2 linked regions of the Homo sapiens genome follow. The protein of the gene in region 2 purifies or fractionates together with the protein of the main gene of each other region. This does not show direct contact. Each region holds a gene or a part of one and is shown on either strand. Other genes may lie near its edges.

Evidence for each region.
Region 1: the proteins of E2F3 (region 2) and TFDP1 purify together in Homo sapiens (affinity purification with mass spectrometry; 3 studies listed by BioGRID and IntAct, with this or other methods). This does not show direct contact.

The regions. Positions count from the first base shown.
Region 1 is NC_000013.11:113,629,747-113,633,658, reverse strand, and holds part of TFDP1 (transcription factor Dp-1), read right to left. Parts: exon of another isoform or gene 2,357-3,912; intron 2,037-2,356; coding exon 1,915-2,036; intron 540-1,914; coding exon 374-539; intron 1-373. UniProt on the Homo sapiens protein: Can stimulate E2F-dependent transcription.
Region 2 is NC_000006.12:20,488,753-20,492,664, forward strand, and holds part of E2F3 (transcription factor E2F3), read left to right. Parts: intron 1-1,415; coding exon 1,416-1,678; 3' UTR 1,679-3,912.

The sequences.
Region 1 (3,912 bases), on a different chromosome or scaffold from region 2:
TGGTGAGGTGGGCATTTGTGCATTTCTGGGCCGCTAGACGTGCAGAGCCAGCCCACGTGCTCACTCACTGGAGTTGACAAAGCATCGTGCCAGCAAATGGATCGGAAAAATTCTTTTATGCTGTACTTGGCATTTTCTGTATGGTTTTAACTGTTCCCGATATTAAAAGAGCGAAACGTACCACACCGCTGGGCTCCGCCACCCCAGCCTCTCGGCCCCGGCACACACTTACTGACTCGTTTGGTAAAAATTCTTTTATGCTGTACTTGGCATTTTCTGTATGGTTTTAACTGTTCCCGATATTAAAAGAGCGAAACGTACCACACCGCTGGGCTCCGCCACCCCAGCCTCTCGGCCCCCGGCACACACTTACTGACTCGTTTGGTAAGATGTGGTTGTCGGCAGCACTGAACTCCGCAACCAGCTCGTCTGCCACTTCGTTGTAGGAAGTGGTCCCTTTCCTCTGCACCTTCTCGCAGACCTTCATGGAGAAATGCCGTAGGCCCTTGCCATTCTTCTCTCCTTTCCTGTTGCGCTTCCTTCAAAATACAAAGGAAAAGAGAAGCGACTGTCAGCCCTCCTGAGGATCAGCCTGAATCGAGGAATGCTTTTACCTGAGAGCTCTAATGAGCTGCACAAAAAGGGGCCACGTCCCACGGGCGCAGCAGATCCAACACGTGAGCAGGCCAGGACCCCCTAGCCCCAGCCCCCAGGCCCAGTGGTCCTGCAGGTCAGAAAGCGAGTGTCTCCCCAGCAGGCTGCACCTCTAACCTTCCAAGCGTCAGGGAAAACGGGAGGCGTCCCCAGGACCCAAATCAGCATATGGGAGATGTGCCGGTACACCAAGCACCACTTTTCTTTTTGTTGTTGTTTTTTCTTTTTTGAGACGGAGTCTCGCTCTGTCGTGGGCTGGAGTGCGGTGGCGCCATCTCGGCTCACTGCAACCTCCACCTCCTGGGTTCAAGCGATTCTCCTGCCTCAGCCTCCCGAGTAGCTGGGATTACAGGCACGTGCCACCACATCTGGCTAATTTTTTTGTATTTTTAATAGAGACGGGGTTGCACCACGTTGGCCAGGATGGTCTCAATCTCTTGAACTCGTGATCTGCTGGCCTCGGCCTCTAGGATTACAGGCGTGAGCCCCAAGCACCACTTTTCTAAAGAGGGCAGCCAGAATCAGGAACTATGGGACGTTTCAGTGTAAATTTGGGAATTCTTAGGACTAATTTCAGCAGGCTGTAATTTCATACAGCTTGGGCTGTGACAGCCGCTTGACAACAGGTGCAAAGCACTAAGTGTGCTTCAGGTCGAGGGAAAGCCCAACTCTGTACACTCTGGTCAGTCCCCACATGGCGGGAAAGGCCACCTGAGGTTCCTAGCTGGTGAAGCTTTGGGCACCAACACAGGCAGGCTTTTGCAGCTTTGCGTGTGTGTGTTTTTAAGGAAAGACACAGCTCATCAGATCTTGCTTTAGTGGAAGGAGCAGCTCTGGCGGGACCACCCGCGGGGGCCGTAACCCCAGGGGCAGTAGAGGCTGAATTCAGGGGCAGTGGGTGAAATCCATCCCACATGCTCCCAGCACAGACGAGGGAAAGTCTCCGAGGTCCTGTGGCGAGTACGAGGCCAGCTTCTCCCCGTCTTGGCCAAGAGCTGCCAGCCCTTCAGAGAGCACCCACTACACCAGACACAAAGCGGGGTGGGCGGTGCCCAGCCCGACTTCTCCATGACCGAGGCAGTGCGCCTCGGCTGCACACCTGTGCAGGCCACGATGATGGGTGAGTGTGATTCGGAGGCTGGCGTCAACGCGCGTGGGAGCCCCATCGCACGACTGTGTGACACACGTGGCCCAGGAGAACGTGGAGGTGCGAACCGCAAGCAGTCCTACAACTCTAAGGGTCCAGAGGGAAGTGCTCACCCGGCAGACCAAGGTGAGGAGTCGGAAGGCTGGTTCTGAGAGGCAAAGTGAGTGCTGGGGGTGTGTGGGCTTCCTACCACCAGGGTGTTTGACGCTGCCGGTCTCTGAGGCGTACCAATTACCTACAGTCGAAAAAGACAATTCAGACAGTCAGTCCCCTCCCACACGGCGAGGGTGCCATGCCCACCATCTGTTCGCTATCCGCAGCCACTGCTGAATTTCCTTAACCACAGTGAGCAGCCATGACGGAGCAGGAAAAACGTCCAGCGGTGGACGCTTTTGTCACGGTGACGGCATCACCCCACCGGTTCTGAATGTGGCTCATCTTCCTCTTGTCAGTCACAGGCATCTTCTCCAATTAGACAAAAGCAACAAGAAACTTCGGACGACCCAAGCAAGCAAGAACAGGACAGGGCAGAGCGTGACCCCCAAACCGCACACAAGGCGCTAACGGTCAAGTTTAATGAAGGGGGCGGCACAGAATTCCACACAGGGCACTTGAGCACGCTTCCATTTTTCCCTTCACCCTTTTACTTCCTTTTAGTGATATGGATGAGGATGAAATTGTATCCTTCTGTGGTACTAAAAAGAGGCCTGAAACAAACCAAAAACAGCTCTCAAAAGACAAAAGCACAGGCAGGGTGACAGCAGCTGCTCCTCCAGCCCAGCAGGGTGACAGCCATCACCTGGTAACCCTGTGCCCTGGGGCCCTGTCTGGGGGAACCCCTGCACCCACAACGGCGTCAGGCAAGGAGGGAGGGCCACCAGCACTGGGGGCGGAAGGTAGGGGCTCCACACGCCCCTGGGGCTCACACACCTGGGCCCCTCTGGGGGGAACCACCAGAGGCAACGCCAGTGTGGACACTGACCCACCCGCCCCACCCCACAGCACACCTGAGGGTGTCAACAACTGTCTCTCCCTTCAGGGACATGCTGGCTGGTCTGACTCTTGACAAGGTCTTACCACTTTAGTTCCAACAATGAATGTTCGAGTGTGAATACCTGGACACCCTCATACAGGCAAATACAACTCTGACTTTTCAAAGATCTTGTGGCACGACTCTATCTAAACTGGAAACACTATTTCTCAGTAAATGTTAAATCATTCAATTCACCACAAATCAAAGTGCCTCAGCGATTATACTGCTTGTATGGACATGCAGTTTCCGTTAAAGGGATTGGAGCTGGACACCTGTATGCTGGCGGGGGGGCTTCATGTGGCCGATGCCCTGAGCTACTCTAAGCTGGGCCCCCCCAGCTCCCCTTCTTACGGGGATAAATGCATCACCTGCGGTGGCCCTGGGAGCAGCTGACGGGGACACTTTCCAATTATCCCTAGGCCAGATCACCTGTCAGCTCCGGAGAAGAAAAACATTTCAAGGACTGATCTTTTCATTGACACTCATCTCTCCGATGATCAGAGACTCATCAGAGTGCGGCCTTCTGTGGATCACCAGGCCATGAAATCAAACAAGTGAATTTTCTGCAAAATGAAGCCATACAAAAGATAAATCTCCTGGGCGTGGATAAATGTCCTGTGAAACTTGTTTTGTTCAATACGCGTGTGTGTGTGTGTGTGTGTGTGTGTGCTGCTGGGGCACTGGGCCACGTGGGAGATCCAAACAGCTGACAAAAGGACCCTGCCACTCAGGCTGCCTGAGAGCGCGCTGGCCCCGCACGGCTTCCTACGTTGAGTTCAGCAGATGCCATTCTCCGGGAGTTGATGTCAGACTGAGAACCCGCCAGCTCCACGCCAGGCAGTGCTGGCTGGCTCCGCGCATACCACACGCACAGGTACAGGGGGCTGGAGAATCCCACACACGATTCTAACCCACCTCATGGGTCCACTCCCTTCCCCAGGAATCCCAGGACCACGCAAGGCACTGGATCTTGGCCCCAAAACAGATGCCGTCACCGTGCCGCTGTCCTCCAGGCAGGAGCAAACCTACTCACAAAGAGTGGACTTACAACGAGGAACTGACTTACAACGAGGAACTT
Region 2 (3,912 bases):
TGGGAGGCCGAGGCAGGCAGATCACGAGGTCAGGAGATCGAGACTGTCCTGGCCAACACAGTGAAACCCTGTCTCTACTAAAAATACAAAAATTAGCTGTGCGTGGTGGCACGTGCCTGTAATCCCTGCTACTCGGGAGGCTGAGGCAGGAGAATCACTTGAACCAGGGAGTCGGAGGTTGCAGTGAGCCGAGATCCGCCACTGCACTCCAGCCTGGTGACAGAGTGAGACTCCATCTCAAAAAAAGAAAAGAAAAGAAAAGAAATCTAACTTCTCCTTCCCGCTCTGCAAAGAGCAAAGGAAGCTCTTTGCAGTATATATTTTTCCATTTCCTAACTTGAGGAGATATATATGCAATTGTTTCCCTTAGTGTCTCCCTATATAGCAGCAAGAATAAGGGTGATTTAAGTGAATAAGTCTGATTTAATACTGAGCAAAAGTACATCACCTGAAATGGTAAAACAAAAGGCCATCTTTCTTCACCACAGAAATCCAAAGTGGATCTGTCTTATTGTATGTATTTTTAGAGATCTTTTTAATAAGCTGGTTGTTCAAAAAAGACTGAGTTAAAATCAGTGAATTCTGCATGTAGTCCCAGCTATAGGGAGGCTGGGGTGGCAGGATCGCTTGAGCCCAGGAGTTCGAGGTTAGAGTGAGCTATGCTTGCCTGTGAATAGCCACTACACTCCAGCGTAGACAACATAGCAAGACGCCGTCTCTTAAAAAAAAAAGTTCTTTTTTCAGTTGGTGAGTTTCTACTAGGAAGCCAACTTTTCAGTATGTATATATTGTTTTGTTTTGATTTTCTTAAAACAATGACTAGATAGCAGAGAGAAGTTTTTGAACTTGTTATCCTCTCATCATTGAAGTTATTTGCATTCTTGTTTATTGACAGTAGTTATTTGAAAAATGAGTGAGTAGACTAGGGCCAAAGAAAGATGGCCAGGCATGGTGGCTCACACCTGTAATTTCAGCACTTTGGGAGGCCAAGGAAGACAGATCACTTGAGCCCAGGAGTTCGAGACCAGACTGGGCAACATGGCAAAACCCTGTCTCTACAAAAAAAGATTAACCAGGCATGGTGGCTCACACCTGGAGTCCCAGCTACTTGGGAGGCTGAGGTGGGAGGGTCCCTTGAACCCAGAAGTTCAAGACTGCAGTGAGTCATGATCACACCACTGCACTCCAGCCAAGAGAATAAGACCCTGTCTCAAAAATTAAAAGGGGGACGGGGGTGGCAAGGAACTTTTTTGTACCTGTTAGCATAAAAGGTGATCTGCATCATAAAGTCGTCTCATTGTCATTATTTGCGGAAGGTACATGCTTTTTTCTAACAGCAACATATACATTCTTCCAGAAAAATTCATTTGATTTTTCTAACTTATTTTTTGTTTCCATCAATGTTTTCTTTTCAGACTTGGCTTCAACCAACTCAGGACATAGCGATTGCTCAGTTTCTATGGGAAACCTTTCTCCTCTGGCCTCCCCAGCCAACCTCTTACAGCAGACTGAGGACCAAATTCCTTCCAACCTAGAAGGACCGTTTGTGAACTTACTGCCTCCCCTGCTGCAAGAGGACTATCTCCTGAGCCTCGGGGAGGAGGAAGGCATCAGCGATCTCTTCGATGCTTACGATTTGGAAAAGCTCCCACTGGTGGAAGACTTCATGTGTAGTTGATTATGCTTCGTGTGAACTCTCCTTAAAAACCGATATTTTTTTATCATGGAACCAGAACATCTGTCATGCAGTGTTGTCCCTTCCTACCTTCTTCCTCCAAGAGAGTATCATGAAGTAAACTACAAACTTCAGAAGAAAGCTGACATTTTAATGAATTTTTTAAAAAATTAATAAACAAATTGTCTAAACGCACAGTTGCAGGCTCCCTTGGGAAAGCCCTGCTTTGCTCCAGGCTCCAAGATCTCCTGGCTAAGTCAGCAAGTGAGAAAATGTGCAATCAGGTGTCTCTCACCCCGAATTGTCCTTCCTCCTTCCTCCCCGGATTGGCTTGCTGTGCCTGACGGATGGGCTGTAGAATGGGGTCTGGCCACCTGGCCTGCTGGGAAACAGCAATCTTCCTTAATAGCATTTCAAGCCGTGCCTTCTCCGCAGAATGCATGTCTTTGAGGTCTGCTAATATGGAATGGAACTGCAGCAAATGCAAACTTGAAGTCATGCAAAAGTATGAAATGGATTTCTTCAGCTCTTCTTAGGAATATTTAAATTACTGTCATAATTCAGTTTAAGCTATGAACTGTGTGTCCCAGTAGGAGGTCAAGAAAACCTCCACAGCCTTCTGGATGAAGAACCTGTTTTCAAATATACTTGTTGCAGATACAGAAGACTAGTAGAGTTCTGCCACTCTAAGCTGTTGTGGATTTTCCTGTCTCCATGAACCACTCCCATTCCCCCGTCCCCAATGTGTTTGTGAGTTTCCAGTTGATTTGTAGCAAATGCCTACTTAGTTCTTTGTGGATTGTTCTAGACTTTTAATTTTTTTAGCTGCCATTTAAGCATTCCTGTGGCACCCATCACCATTTCAATTTAATTGTTTACTTTGAAGCGGTTTTTGCAAATTCATATTACTTAAGCAGAGGGAGAGAACCTCTACTGATCAGAGCATCTAAACCTGTGTGATCTAAGGTTTATCAGCCTCTGCAAGGAGCTTTGTCCCATCGTGCTTCCATTCCCAGGAGGGGGAGCTTGGAGCGAGTCAGTCCTGGGGCTTGCTGACATGGGTGGCCCATTGGAAAGGAGAACCAGGTCAGATGATGTAACAGCCCCAAGGAGCAGCAGGCATGGGTCCCTCCATCCTTGGGCTTCCCGGGCCCCTGTGACAGGGGAAAGGGCTCTCTTACACCGCACTCAGGGAGACCACTTCTCAGGATGGGGTCAGATGGAGAGACCTCTAGGGAGAAAGACATCCCCATTGTGTGAGTGGCATTTCCTTAAGCTGGCAGGAACAGGGAGCAGCCCTGTGTCGGGGGCTGGAATAGTTCTGGCCAGACCCCGTTCCCCTTCCTCTATGAAGGAATAAGTTGGACCAAGGGAAGTCGGGGACGTAAAAAATGAAGCAAAACAATGCCAGGGTGTCTCCCGCTTTACTCTTCAGGAATGGTGTCCCAAGTTGGAGGCTTTGTGTCAGCTGCAAATCCTACCAGTTATGTCCAAGAATGGCTTTCCCTCGGGCAGGTGGCAGCGGCCATCTCCCACTGGGAATATGGCGTAGTATCTCCGGTCCATTCCTTGGATGCTAAGGACTGCGGGAATGAGGGAGTCAGATAAAGAACAAACCTCGAAACGAACAGTTAAATTGAAATGCTATGTGCCTGACCCAATGGTAGGCACATAGTAGGCACTCAACTCATATGTTTAATTGAATTGAAAATATCCCTTAGGAAAAAAAAAAAACACACAAAAAACCACAAGAGCCCCAGCCAGTTTACTCCAGGTAGATTTCCACAATATGCAAAGTGGTGGTGGGGTCAAGACAGATGACACCAGCACTTTAAACTCTTTGTGTGGGTATGCGTGGGTGTATGTTTGGGAAGAAAAACAAAGGTGCAGACTATCTTCCTTTTTTTCTTCTTCAGCCTCCATCCCTGGCCTCCTCCCCTCACACACACTGGACTTGGTACAAAATGTCGGTGTGGTCCTAGATGAAGCATTGGGGTGGGGGAGGGAGAGGGAGCTTTGTGTTAAGTGCCTACTGGAAATGCACTGTGGGGTTTTTTCCTGTATGGGAAACCATTTATGCCAAGCTTTTCCCCATTTCCCATATTTATCTCATCTGGTTAGCTGCCTCTGCTTCCAGCTTTGTGTAATTCTCTTTGCCAGCTGCACAAAGCTGATTTTTTCCAAAGTCTAAAGACTGAGCTCACCTGGCTAGATTGTTGTGTGTTTTGTTGAATTTT